Homo sapiens: one gene and its partner. The protein of the gene in region 2 purifies or fractionates together with the protein of the main gene of each other region. This does not show direct contact. Each region holds a gene or a part of one and is shown on either strand. Other genes may lie near its edges.

Region 1 (7,025 bases), on a different chromosome or scaffold from region 2:
TAGGTTTTTGGTATTACGAATAAAGTTATTGTGAACATTTGTGTAAGATGTTTTGTGAATTTAATTTTCATTTCTCTGGGATAAATGCCCAAGTGTACAGTTACTGGGTTCTATGGTAATTTCATGTTTAGTTTGATGAGAAACAGAAACTGTCAAACTGTTTTCCAAAGTGGCTGTGATATTTACATTCCCACTAACAATGTATGAACCATTCAGAGTCTGTGCATCCTCACCAACATTTTGTGTTGTCACTGTTTTTAGTTAACTATTCAGATAGGTATGTAGTATAAGACTCCTTTTCATGACTAAGTTTGCCTATATTCTGATTTAGGAGGACTTTGTTTGTACTATCTAGTCACCTTACTCCTGCATATCCCTAGGAACTAGAGGCTGCTATCCAGCCAGATACTAGCCTGGTGTCAGTCATGACTGTGAACAATGAGATTGGAGTGAAGCAGCCTATTGCAGAAATAGGTGAGTATCATGGCTTATCCCTGATCCCTGCCCACCATGGGGCTCTGTATGAGGTAGTATACTGAGAGCTGTAATACTCTATGGAGTGTAGTTAGGAAATCAAGGGAAAGCCTAAGTACTTTGTTCAAGGACATTGGAAGTGTCATAGGCAGTATTTGAATCCAGGTCTATTACCATTTTTTTTTTCATTGAGACAGAGTATCACTCTGTCACCTAGGCTGGAGTGCAGTGGTGTGATCTCAGCTCCCTGCAACCTCCTCACTCTGGGTTCAAATGATCCTACCGCCTCAGCCTCTTGAGTAGCTGGGACTACAGGTGTGTACCACTATGCCTGGCTAATTTTTGTATTTTTAGTAGAGATGAGGTTTTGCCATGTTGGCCAGGCTGGTCTTGAACTCCTAACCTCAGGTGATCCGTCTGCCTTGGCCTCCCAAAGTGCTGGGATTACAGGCGTGAGCCACTGCTCCCGGCCAGGTCTAGCACCTTTTATGGTTTTTAATTTTATTGCAGTTGCTGCCAAAACCAACCACAAAACAAAAAAGCCTGCTACTCTTTTTCCTTTTAGAACATCTCTATTCTCCCCACATAGAGATCGCCCTGTAATTTCTTTAGGCACATTAGCACAAAGATCTGTTAATCTTGTTTTTTTTTTTTTATTTTGTTTTGTTTGTTTTTTAATCAAAAGGGATCTAGAAAGTAATCTGACATTTTGAAAGGCTGGTGTTAATGAGGTGGTGAGAATTGTATGCATAAGAATATCACGAGTGTTTCGATCTGGTGCTTTGCCCTTCATCTTTTTTATTCTAAAGAAGGGAAGCTACTGAGACACAGAGAGGGAGGAAGGGGGAAGGGGGAGGAGGGAAGGAAAAGAGGAAGGAGAAGGGGTAGAAGGAGGGAGGGGAGGAGTTTAATATTTACAGGTCATTTACTATTGGAGATAATTCACAGTGCACTGTGGGACTCTGACAGATGACTTTCCAACATTGTGCTGTGGGTCTTCCCCTCTGTTTCCTCAGGGCGGATTTGCAGTTCCAGAAAGGTATATTTCCATACTGATGCAGCCCAGGCTGTTGGAAAAATCCCACTTGATGTCAATGACATGAAAATTGATCTCATGAGCATTAGTGGTCACAAAATCTACGGTCCCAAAGGTACCAGCCCCTTCTAGAGTTCCTTCTCTCTGTACCTTCCAGCAAGACCTTTGATAGATGTTTGTCACAGTCATTTGGGACTACTGTTGCTCTCAGAGGAAGTTGTACATTCAGAGTCCCTTGTAGAATGCAAATGTCATTTAGCAATAGCCAGAAACACTTGCTTGTTTGTAGACCTTAGCAGTTACTATACATCAGGCCATTCTTTCTTGCTCTCTTTAACAAATCCTTAGCAAGCATGTAGATCTTAATTTGGTTGAGGAAAAATGGGTTTTGTCAAATCAAATTTATCTAGATAGGCCCAGCTATCTTGTTTTCCCCACTATGATGTGCAGAGCAACTATTTGAGTCCCTCATTCCCAGTGTCTTGCTATAGCTCAGGGGAAGATTGCATGGGATTTGACATCTCTTTGTGTTCTTTTTTTTTTTCTTGAGACGGAGTCTCGCTCAGTCGCCCAGGCTGGAGTGCAGTGGCGCCATCTCGGTTCACTGCAAGCTCCACCTCCCTGGTTCACGCCATTCTTCTGCCTCAGCCTGCCGAGTAGCTGGGACTACAGGCGCCTGCCACTACGCCCGGCTAATTTTTTTGTATTTTTAGTAGAGACGGGGTTTCACCATGTTAGCCAGGATGGTCTTGATCTCCTGACCTCGTGATCCGCCCGTCTCGGCCTCCCAAAGTGCTGGGATTATAGATGTGAGCCACCAAGCCCAGCTATCTTTGTGTTTATTCTTAGAAGACTTCATAGTCTGTTATCCTGTTAGTCTCTCAAGGATACATGTTTGTTCCCTATGGTCCTATTGGAATGTGTTCAAGCTTGAGTTATGCCTCTTTCCCTTAACCCTTGGGAATAGACTGTTGTCCTCTGTTTTGTGAAGGTAACCATAAAATATAAATATAAAATATAACTCCTCTTTCTCAAGTGAGGGCCTTTTTTGGGTTGATGTCTGTGCTGGTACCCTTTTTATGTCTGCAGGGTGTGTTATCTGGGTGTATACCTTGTGGAAGTAGGTGTAATAGCTTCTGGAATTATGGAAGATGGCGTCTTCTAAGGGTTCCCAGAGGTTGTAGAGTGTTTTTTGTGAGTTATTATTTCAAAAAGCCCAGTAAGCGTTCTGTCTTTTAATAAAATGTTGCTTTTATTGGCTTTTATTGTAGATAAGTCTTTTTGATAAAAACCAATGAACTCAGGCTGGATACCCCATTCTTCATCATGTGCCTATTTCACATTATATGCCTGTATTAAAACATCTCATGGGCTGGGCACGGTGGCTTACACCTGTAATCCCAGCACTTTGGGAAGCCAAGGCGGGCGGATCACGAGGTCAGGAGTTCAAGACCAGCCTGATCAACATGGTGAACCCCCGTCTCTACTAAAAATAAAAAAATTAGCCGGGTGTGGTGGCATGTGCCTTTAATCCCAGCTACTCAGGAGACTGAGGCAGGAGAATCGTTTGAACCCAGGAGCCAGAGGTTGCAGTGAGCCGAGATCACACCACTGCCTGGGCGACAGGCGAGACTCCCTCTCAAAAACAAAAAAAATCTCATGAACTCCATAATATATATACCTCCTGTGTACTCACAAAAATTTTAAAAACAAAAAACCAATGAACTCATTGATCAGAAGCTCTGATCAACACTTACATGTGTACAGGTGTCCCTCATTATCCAACCTCCTGCTTTCCAAGTCCAGAATCTAAATAGATTTAGATAATGTGGCATTCTTCACTGTTCAGACATGGTATTTGAGCACTTGCTGTTTGAATTTGGGAACTGTTTAGACTCAGATAGTATAAGATTCTTGAATTTTTTTAAATGGAGAAATGAAATAATTCTTAATAAATACAGTTTAATACATTATTTTATTCATTTGTTTTATAGGGACAAGGTCTCACTCTGTTGCTCAGGCTGGAGTGCAGTGGTGCTATCCTACCTTGCCACAGCTTCAATCTCCTGGGCTCAAGCAACCCTCCTACCCCAGCCTCACCAGTAACTAGCACTACAGGTGTGCACCAACACGCCTAATTTTTTTTTTTGAGACAAAGTCTTACTCTGACGCCCAGGCTGGAGTGCAGTGGTGTGATCTCGGCTCGCTGCAACCTCTGCCTCCCAGGTTGAAGGGATTCTCCTCTCTCATCCTCCTGAGTAGCTGGGATTATAGGCCCACTGTGCCCGGCCATGCCTGGCTAATTTTTTTTTTTTTTTTTTTTGAGACAAAGTCTCGCTCTTGTCCCCCAGGCTGGAGTGCAATGGTGAGATCTCGGCTCACTGCAACCTCCGCCTCCCGGGTTCAAGCGATTCTCCTGCCTCAGCCTCCCAAGTAGCTGGGATTACAGGTGCCTGCCACCACGCCTGGCTAATTTTTGTATTTTATTTTATTTTTTGAGACGGAGTCTCGCTCTGTCACCCAGCCTGGAGTACAGTGGCGTGATCTTGGCTCACTGCAAGCTCCGCCTCCAGGGTTCACGACATTCTCCTGCCTCAGCGTCCCAAGCAGCTGGGACTACAGGCGCTTGCCACCACGCCCGGCTAATTTTTTTTTTTTTGTATTTTTGTAGAGACGGGGTTTCACTGTGTTAGCCAGGATGGTTTTGATCTCCTGACCTCATGATCTGCCCGCCTCGGCCTCCCAAGGTGCTGGGAATACAGGTGTGAGCCACCACACCCGGCCTAATTTTTGTATTTTTAGTAGAGACAGGGTTTCACTATGTTGGCCAGGCTGGTCTCGAACTCCTGACCTCAGGTGATCCACCCACCCTTGGCCTCCCAAAGTGCCGGAATTACAGGCGTAATCCCGTGCCCGGCCCAATGCCTGGCTAATTTTTAAAACAGTTTTTGTAGAGATAGAGGTTTCACTATGTTACTCAGGCTTGAATTCCTGACCTCAAGCAACCCTCCCGCCTCAGTCTCCCAAAGTGCTGGGATTACAGGCATGACCCACTGCACCCAGCTTATTATTTAAAATCTGGTGTCCTTCATAATCGATTTGGAAACCACTGCCTTAATTTTTATAGTACCTCCATTCTCAGCATAAACAGTTTTTCTGTGTGGGAGAACTGTCAAGTGCCAATTCTATTCAGAAGCCCTGATTACTTGGTGAATAACTTTGCATGCTCATGCTCATATTTTGGCACAAAATTTCTGTAATTCGGCTTGTTTAGTCACAGGTTATACGCATTTTTAAGTTTTTTGTTTTTTTGAGTCAAGGTCTCAGTCTGTTGCCCAGCCTGGAGTGGAGTGAGTGGCACGATCATAGCTCACTGCAGCCTCGACCTCCTAGGCTCAAGTGATCCTCCTGCCTTAGCCTCCAGAGTAGCTGGGACTATAAGTGCATGCCACCATGCCCAGCTAAGTTTTAATTTTTTTTTTTGTAGACACGGGGTCTCACTGTGTTTCTCAGGCTGGTCCCAAACTTCTGGTCTCAAGTGATTCTCCTTCCTTGGCCTCCCAGAATGCTGGGATTGTAGTCATGAGCCACCGTGCTCCACCAAATTGTTTTTAAATTTAAATTTTATTTTGAAAAAGTAATATTCATGTGATTCAAAATTCAAAAGCTACAAAAAAGTGCACAGACAGCCAGGTGCAGTGGCACACGCCTGTAATTGCAGCACTTTGGGAGGCCGAGGCGGGCAGATCATGAGGCCAGGAATTTGAGACCAGCCTGTCCAACATGGTGAAACCCCGTCTGTACTAAAAATACAAAAATTAGCCATGCGTGGTGGCGGGTGCCTGTAATCCCAGCTAATCAGGAGGCTGAGGCAGGTGAATCACTTTAACCGGGAAGGTGGAGGTTGCGGTGAGCTGAGACCGTGCCATTGCACTCCAGTCTGGGCAACAGAGCAAGACTCTTGTCTCAAAAAAAAAGGGAAAAAAAAGGCACAGACAAAAGTCTGCCTCTCACCTCTGACCTCCAGCTATGCAGTTCCCTTCTGGGGAGGTAATTTCTTTCTTGGTTTTTTTTTTTTTTTTTTTTTTTTTTTCTGATTTTCTCTGGTTATTGGGAGGCAATTTCTTGGGTTTTTCTACAATTATCCTATGTGTTTACAAACAAATATATACTTCTCCTCCAGCTTTCTTTTTTATCCAGATGATAGCATACTGTACTCACTGTTTCAATCTTTCATTTTTCACCTAATGGTACATCTTTTTTTTTTTAGACAGAGTCTTGCTCTGTCACTAGGCTGGAGTGCAGTGGCACAATCTTGGCTCACTGCAACCTGTGGCTCCCAAGTTCAGGCGATTCTCCTGCCTCAGCCTCCTGAGTAGCTGGGATTACAGGTGCGTGCCACCACGCCCAGCTAATTTTTGTATTTTTAATAATTACGGGGTTTCACCATGTTGGTCAGGCTGGTCTCGAACTCCTGATTTCATGATCTGTCCGCCTCGGCTGCCCAAAGCACTGGGATTACAGGTGTGAGCCACCGTGTCCAGCCCATAATACATTTTTTTTTTTTAGACGGAGTTTTGCTCTTGTTGCCCAGGCTGGAGTGCAATGGTGCCATCTCAGCTCACTGCAACCTCTGCTTCCCGAGTTCAAGCAATTCTTCTGCCTCAGCCTCCCTAGTAGCTGGGATTACAGGCATGTGCCACCATGCCTGGCTAATTTTGTATTTTTAGTGGAGAAGGGGTTTCTCCATGTTGGTCAGGCTGGTCTCAAACTCCCGAACTCAGGTGATCCACCCACCTCAGCCTCCCAAAGTGCTGGTATTACAGGCGTGAGCCACTGCGCCCGGCCAATACATCTTTGTTTTTTCAAGCTAAAGTACAGACTTTTTTTTGGATTTCACCAGTTTTGTAACAATGTATCTTGGAGATTTTATGGTGTCAGTTCAGAACAAGCTTCTTCTTTTTTTTTTTTTTTTTTTTGGGAGACAGAGTCTTGCTCCATCACTCAGGCTGGAGTGCAGTGGCTTGATCTCAGCTCACTGCAACCTCTACCACCTGGGTTCATCTCATGTCTCAGCCTCCTGAGTAGCTGGGATTACATGTGCCTGCTACCACGCTTGGCTAATCTTTGTATTTTTAGTAGAGAGAGGGTTTCACCATGTTGACCAGGCTGGTTTCTAACTTCTGATCTCAGGTGATCCGCCCGCCTTGACCTCCCACAGTTGGGATTATAGGCGTGAACCACCACACCCGGCCCCCTCATTCTTTTATACACCTGCTTGGTATTTCATTGTATGGACATGCCATAATCTATTTGACCATTACCCTGATGATGGACATCTAAGTTGTTCCCAGTATTTTTGCTATTATGAATAATACTGTAATGTATGATGGCATTTCATATAGCATAGGGAGCTACTTTAAACCATTTTGATCATTACTCCTTCTGGCATTTATCTTCCAGATGTTAAATATTTTACTAAATACTATGCTTTTACTGCTGTTTCTTCTTTTCC
Region 2 (7,526 bases):
CCCATACTTGTGGCATGGGCAACATAGGCCTTTAAATATAATGCCTTCAGAACTTTAAACTTGGAGCGGCACTGACGTTCGGTGCGGCGGAAGCCCTCCTGCTGCATTCGCTTAGACACAGCCTGATAGACATCTGCATTGTGATGCACAGTCTGGAGGCGCTGAATATACTCTGCCTCGCCTAGTATGGAGAGAAGAGTTCGTGTCTCCTGTCTGGACCACCGGATGCCCGCACTGCTATTGGCACTGGCCATTGTGGGTTGGAAAGGAGGGCTAGGCAGCTTCTGGACAGCAAGGTGCAAGTCTGAAGGTGTGGGGAAGCTCTGTGTGCTCTCAGGATATCTCCAGGATCTTCCCTCTCAGGGATAATTGCTGAGAAGCCAGGTCCAAGGACCGCATTTCTGGCTGGAAGGCCACAGGGGAATGAGAGTTACAGGAAGGGTGTAAGGATAATTTTGGCAGCAAGTTAAGTGGTGCTACCTGTGAGTAGGTCATAAACAGGCATGAGGCCAAGACTGAGATAGCCCAACTTTGGGAGTTCACCCAGGGTAGACACGGCACCAAGAACCTAATGGCTTGGTAACAAAAAGGCCAAATGCTTTCATGGCTGAGAGTTGGTACAACAATGGATCTGTAAAAATCACCCTTGTCTGGTGAGTAGATGGGCTGGGAGGGAAAATCACCTGGACCATGAGGCAGCTAACGCTAAAGGAGTCCAAGCATGACCACGGTATAGCAATCTGAAAGATGCTCAGTCTTTACTAATCACAGCACGCTGTGGCTCTGTGTTACCCATCTGACTGTCAGTGTGGGCCAGAAAAGTGAGTTTAAGTTGCTCTGCTAATACAAATTTTTTTTTTGCACAATATGGCAGAAGAAAGCCACATAATTACTCTAACCATGTGCCCTCAAACAGCAGCATAAAACAAACAGTAACATATTGTTGGCTACCAGGGGAGAGATCTATGGAAATGTTCTGTATCTGGACTATATCGATGTGAGCATCTTGGTTGTGACACTGTACTATAATTTTGCAAGATATAACCACGGGGAGAGGTGGTGAATCCAGCAATGTGTTTGATGTCTCTGTATTATTTCTTACACAGCAGCATGGGAAACTGCAATTCTCTCTAAATAAAAAGTTTAATTAAAAAAATCATATTGTTGGCTGCTCAGTGATTTGGGCTTGAAGACCCATCTACGATTCTTTTTTCTAGACTTTATGATCTGAAAATATTTGACACCAACTTATATTTAATATGCTCGGTACTAAGTTTTATCAATAGGTAAAAGGATATGGGGATGTATTTATTGTCACTGAATATTGAATTCTCTCCAAACAACTATAGTTTTTGGCTTAGTGCATAAGTATCCTGAGGAAAAAGATTAATATCAAGTTCAATTTAATTGAACACAGGTAAGAGACAGAAAATAAGATAAACAGGTAAGAGATACCTGCATAAATTTAATCTATAATATCCAATTCTAAATCAACACCAGGACATTTTTACTTAAATTCTCACTAAACAAAGTTGAAAGAAAAGAACCTGGGGCCGAGGGTGAGGAGACCTGATCTGCAGTCTTACCCAGTTTACCCCCTAGGATAATGCCACAATTTCTTTGTACCTTGATTTTCTCATCTATAAATGGGGAATGATAGTATTTGCGTTGCCAATTTTACAAGGATGTTGAGAGAATTAAATAAAATAATAGATGTGAAAGCACTTTGAAAATTTAAAAACACTCTATCAAGTATTACTACAGTAGTGAAAATGAAAACCCCTAATTATTATAGCAATCTATAATTTGAGGAGACAGAAGTCTGGGGAAGCAAGCCTGTTTTAATCTTCTAATTAAACTTACAACAGATGATTAATCTGATTCTTACATAAGACGTTAATTTAGCTGTTACTCTAATGATTAAATTTGTAAGTCAAGTGGAAAAGTTCGTTCCCAGAAAGTGTCACAAAAGATCCTGAGGAAGAAAATCAATAGTGTCTACATAAATTACGAAAAATTGTAATAGATTCAGCAAAATTCAACCACATTGTCAATAAGTCTTCAAATTCCCACAAAATCTTTGAAATCCTCTCAGTTAAAAAAAATCTAAAAATGTGAACAATCCAAATTACCACCTCTGACGCAAATTACCAAATTGACCTGTCAGCAAGAAACTAACATCTGAGTGAATCCCATATCAGAGAAGATCCAACACTAAGAATCAAAAGACACTGCCTACTGGGGGTACTCTCTGTAATGACTCAGTCATAAAAAGCAATGAAGAAACAAACTATGCTGTTTCTAATTTCTTTTCACATTATGCTTAGAATTTATGAACATGTTCCTATTACCATATTTAAAAGTATCATTTGATTCCATACCTTCTGCCCAGGATCTGCTTTACTTTCATTACTGTATTTGAAATATTTCTTATTCTACTTTGTTTTGCTGCCAATCCAACAATCTGAAAAAAAAAATAATATATATATATATATATTACAATGTATGTAATTTTAAATTATTTCAGAAGTACAAAAATGGGGGGACTAGTACCTCTTCATTTTCTGAGTAAGCAACAACAGCTGGAGTAACTCGGTCACCGGCATCATTTGCAACCACACCAGCCCGGCCATCCTAGAGAAAAAAACACGAAATACATAGTCTCATTAGACGTATTCAGACGTGTGCATTTGTGCACCAGTGTTACTTTGCCATCTGTGTGGAAAGAAAAACTGCTATCTCAATATTTTAAACTTGCAAATTTAATTACCATTTAATTTCCTCGTTTTCATAGAAAGCCTATAATTCCATGAAGAACTGCCTCATGTTTTCAGTCTGCTCTGCAAAGTCAACAATTGAATCAAAAGTAATAACAACCTTTCTACACACAAAACGAAGGCTATTATTACGTTACCTTTCCTACCTCTCTTCCTTCTTACCATTACCATTTCTTTTTTTTTTTTTTTTGGACACGGAGTCTTGCTCCGTGGCCCAGGCTGGAGTGCAGACTGCAGTGCCAGATCTCGGCTCACTGCAACTTCCGCCTCCCGGGTTCAAGCCATTCTCATGCCTCAGCCTCCTGAGCAGCTGGGATTACAGGCGTTCCCGGCTAATTTTTAGTATTTTTAGTAGAGGCGGGGTTTCACCATGTTAGCCAGGCTGGTCTAGAACTCCTAACCTCACGTGATCCGCCTGCCTCGGCTTCCCAAAGTGCTGGGATTACAGGCGTAAGCCACCGCGCTGGGCCCCTTTCTTCCCATTTCTACAAATGAAGTAGTATTATTCCCTTTGGCTTTTCCTAACAAGTCATTTGACATTTAAACGCGGGACTAGTGGCAACGGAGTTCATGATTATCGTTTCTTCTGCCTCCCCACTGATGAGAGAAAGGCCACAAGTCCTGTCAGGCTCTCACTTCCAGAAAGGCCACCTCTGTAGACCACGCACCATCAACTGGCTTCACAGCCAGGCAGCTTTGCGGGACCATCAGCCCCAGCTCGACTGCAGCCTCCCCGCCCCTCCGGGACCTAGACGTTCGGGCCCAGCTCAGCGCGTTCTGCGGCCCTGCTGTCCCAGAGACCACCGCCTCCAAGTACCTCGCGGCCACAACTTTCCCAGGACCTCCCACCCGCGGGAATCCTGAGGCCCTGACGTCAGCGAGACCCCTTCCGGCATCCAGAGGCCAGGACGTCCCCGTGACCTCCCCCAAAATGCTCGCAGCCCCGCCGTCCCCGGGACCCCCCGGGACACCCAGCGGCCCCGCTGTCTCCGGGACCCCCCCGGGCACCCTGCAGCTACGTCGTCCCTGGGACCCCTCCGGGCATCCCGCCGCCATGACGCCCTGGGACCCCGCGCGTCTACATCGCCGCGAGCCTCCGCCGCGGAGTAGACGACTTTCCGGAGGAATCGCCAGGCGCGAGGCCGGGCCTGCCCGGCCCTTCGCTCCGGAGTGTCCTCGCGGCAACGCCACTCCACGACATCCCTAGGCCGGCGACACGCCGCTCTCAAGCCTGTGGATGACCCAGCGCCAGAAAACCGGGTGGCCGTCATGAAGCCCTAGCCCAGCTCCGCAGCCCCTCACCTTATAGACGGCCACACAGGCTGAGGTGCAGCCCAGGTGAACTCCGATGGCCGCCATGAGGCAGCAGGGACGGCAGCGGCAGGAATGAGGGGGTCCCCCAACAGCAACAGCTACCGGCCGCCCAACGGCCCCATCAGGCACCGCGGAGCTTCACGTTCCCGCCAGCCCCCTGCGTCCGGTCGGCCGCTACAGCCTCCCGCGTCGCCGCCAATCAGCGTGAAGGTTCCGCCTTTCTTCACGCGCAGTCCGCGAGTAGCTTCAGCGCGTCTCTGCGCTCCGCGGAAACTGCACAGTGCGCACGCGCAACCGGGGAGGGACGGGAAAAGGCTCCTACACTCCGCCCCCTTCCTATCCCTTCCTTGAGAGCCAATGGAAACTCTGTGTTCAGTTGCGTCATTTGTCCTGGCAACTACTGGCAGATTCTTTCCAACCTCGAATTCTGCTCAGCTCGCTTTGGCAGCTTGGTGGGCGGTGGGCGCGGGTGGCGGAGGCGATTGAAGCTGCTGGCCCAGCATGTGGTGCGCGAGCCCAGTTGCTGTGGTGGCCTTTTGCGCCGGGCTTTTGGTCTCTCACCCGGTGCTGACGCAGGGCCAGGAGGCCGGGGGGCGGCCAGGGGCCGACTGTGAAGGTGAGCGGTGTGACAACTGCTTGCATGGCGGCGGCCCCGCGCTGCGGCGCAGCAGCTGTCGGCTTTGGCTTCTCCTGGCCCTGGCTATAAATAACATTCCGCCCAGGAAATGCAGGCCCTGTCCCTCGTTTTAGATCGCCCAAGCCCAGCTCGAGTAAAAAGCTCAAGCCGGGCCTGGTGGTAACGTGAGGCCACGTTGTGGTTTTGCTGTGAATATTAAACTTCAGCAGTAAAAGCTGGTGGGTTTGTATTTGGATTAGAGTTTGTGCAAAGAATGCTAGATTCAGATGATACTGGCGCCAGATTGATTCTGCTGCTTCCAACCAGCAAGATTTGCCTCCCCTTGCACAGAAGACGTCTTTCAAGTCCAAGCTAGTTGGTGACTCCCCAAAGGAAAACAAAACATGGCATTGAGTTGAGTAGCTTAAATCAGAGGACATAGCTAATATTTGTTAGGACTCTGTAGGTGAAAATTGCTTTGCAAAGGAGTACACTGACTCCTTGGGAAAGAGAGGAATACAAAAGAGTGGTTCCTTTTTGTTCACGGTATCTCAGCTGTGAACTCGCAGTCAGAATACGTGAGTCTGTATCCCACCAAGTCCCCTAGCTCTGAGACTTTGGTTTTTGCAAAATCAGCGTACTTCACTTTAGAGATCTGTTAGCAAAGGCAAAGAAGGTAAGTGGCTATGCTAGCCCCTTCCTTCTGGACTCCTGTAGCGCTCACTCCATGTTTTACTGAAAATAATTAGTTTAAATGTATATGCCCTCAGCTGGAAAATATATCCCTAGTGAACAGGAAATTGTAGGTTCATCATATATGTTGAGTGAATGGATGGGTATAGTCGTACTAAAGTTGTGTTTTTGTTTGTTTTGTTGTTTTGTTTTTTGTTTTTGTTTTTGTTTTGAGACAGTCTCACTGTGTTGCCCAGGCCGGAGTACAGTGGCACAATCTTGGCTCACTGCAGCCTCCATCATCGGGTTCCAGCGATTCTCCTGCCTCAGCCTCCCAAGTAGCTGGTACTAAAGGCACCACCACCACGCCTGACTAATTTTTATATTTTTAATAGAGATGCAGTTTCACCATGTTGGCCAGACTGGTCTTGAACTCCTGGCCTCAGGTGATCGGCCCGCCTCAGCCTCCCAAAGTGCTGGGATTACAGGCGTGAGCCACAGCGCCCAGTCCTTAAAGTGTTAATAATTGGAGCCTGGCTTTCTATGAGCTCTGCAATAATTAAACTTTTCTCCAGAAATTTAAAATATCTACATGTTATTACTCGATATAAAGATATTTGTTTAGCTAAGTTATAATTTTGCTCCAAACCATGCTATAATTGTGTCCTATACTTTTAAAACAGACTTTGTGAGGCAAAGACAATTGATTTGATGACTCATCTGGGGCTCCCACTTATAAATGTTTCAAGAGAGACAGCATCTGGATTAATTAAATGGGAAGCTTATGCTGTCTGTCCTAAATTTATTACAGCATGCTGTGATTATTGCATGTCTGACTAACCTGTCTATATATTTCATTTGTTAGGTAAAGAAGCTTGTGTAATCGCAGAGGAAGGACATAACAGTTTGGTAACTAAAAGAACCAGATTCTGCATCCAGCTCTATTACTGCTTATGAGTGATCCTCCCTCCTCAGCCTCCTTTCTTATTTACAACTTAATTTCTTCTCAATGTATAAGATTAAAATGCCATATTATACATACTCTAGAGCGAAGGCAAAAAAACTGAATGGTTCCTGAGCCGTCTCGGACCTATTGATATGTTTCGTTACATTTACAAAATATTTTGAAAAAAATTAAATTCACTGGGTACATTTTAAAATTGGGAAATTTTATGTAAAAATTCATATTTCTGGCTTTTCTCAAAAAACCAGATGACCTGGCAAGATTGGCCTTATGGCTGTATAGTAGAATTGGCTATTGGCTGCTCTTTTTAGAAAGGACTTGGGTTTTGAGTAGTTTGCCGCCCCTACTCTGCCCCCGATTCAAATTGCTTAACTCTTCTTTTTCCTTGCCTGGCCCCTGTAGATATTCAAGTCTGTGAGTCCTATTATTAGGTAATGTGAGGTTTACTGGAAAAACATAAATATTTCCAAATCTCTTTTAAAGGATTATATTATGGGACTATTTTAAATAACTTTTTATTTTAAAATAATTATAGATTCACTTATAAAACTATCTTTAATAAACATAAAAGCACAATATAAATAAAAGAAGTATGGCTATCTGAGGTTATTTTAGCAATAAAGACATCCCAGAAAACTTAAGAAGCTACTAATTTGTTAGGGCATTTATGGTGAGGTTATTCTCTTCATGTAAGTCCAGAAAATGAGTTTCCTTTCTTACCTTGACTTCTTTGTGGTGTGTGACACCATTGACATCTTTCCCTTTCAGAGACTGCCTTCTCTTCATGGTCATGATACTGCTTTTCTCCTTCCTGTCTCTATGCCCACTTGTCCAGTGTGTCTTTGTGGGCTTCTGATCCTCTAGCCATGGCTTAGAATTTTCCAGGGTTCTGCTCTCTTCTCTTCTCTCTTCTCAGTCTACACACTCTTCTTGGCAACCCAAACCAACCTACCTCCAGTCTAATAAATCTCTAACCTTATATCCACTGACCTTTCTAGAGTCTCAGACCTTGCATCCAATTGACTAGTGAACATGCCCTCTTAGATATGATGTACATCAACATCAACACAGTCAAAAAACCAAAGTCATCATCTCCTTCCCTTCTCACTCCCCTAAACCTGTTACTGTCATGCTTACGGTGACAGCATGGGACAACTACCTGGTCACCTAGCCTAGATTCTAG

The links.
Region 1: the proteins of CDNF (region 2) and NFS1 purify together in Homo sapiens (affinity purification with mass spectrometry; 3 studies listed by BioGRID and IntAct, with this or other methods). This does not show direct contact.

Annotation. Positions count from the first base shown.
Region 1 is NC_000020.11:35,675,337-35,682,361, reverse strand, and holds part of NFS1 (cysteine desulfurase isoform a precursor), read left to right. Parts: intron 1-380; coding exon 381-474; intron 475-1,490; coding exon 1,491-1,625; intron 1,626-7,025.
Region 2 is NC_000010.11:14,835,013-14,842,538, reverse strand, and holds the start of CDNF (cerebral dopamine neurotrophic factor precursor), read left to right. Parts: upstream 1-4,501; 5' UTR 4,502-4,592; coding exon 4,593-4,707; intron 4,708-7,526. Other genes in the region: MSANTD7 (zinc finger and SCAN domain containing 29), read right to left, coding at 1-254; HSPA14 (heat shock 70 kDa protein 14), read right to left, coding at 2,382-2,464, 2,554-2,634, 4,080-4,136. UniProt on the Homo sapiens protein: Trophic factor for dopamine neurons. Prevents the 6-hydroxydopamine (6-OHDA)-induced degeneration of dopaminergic neurons.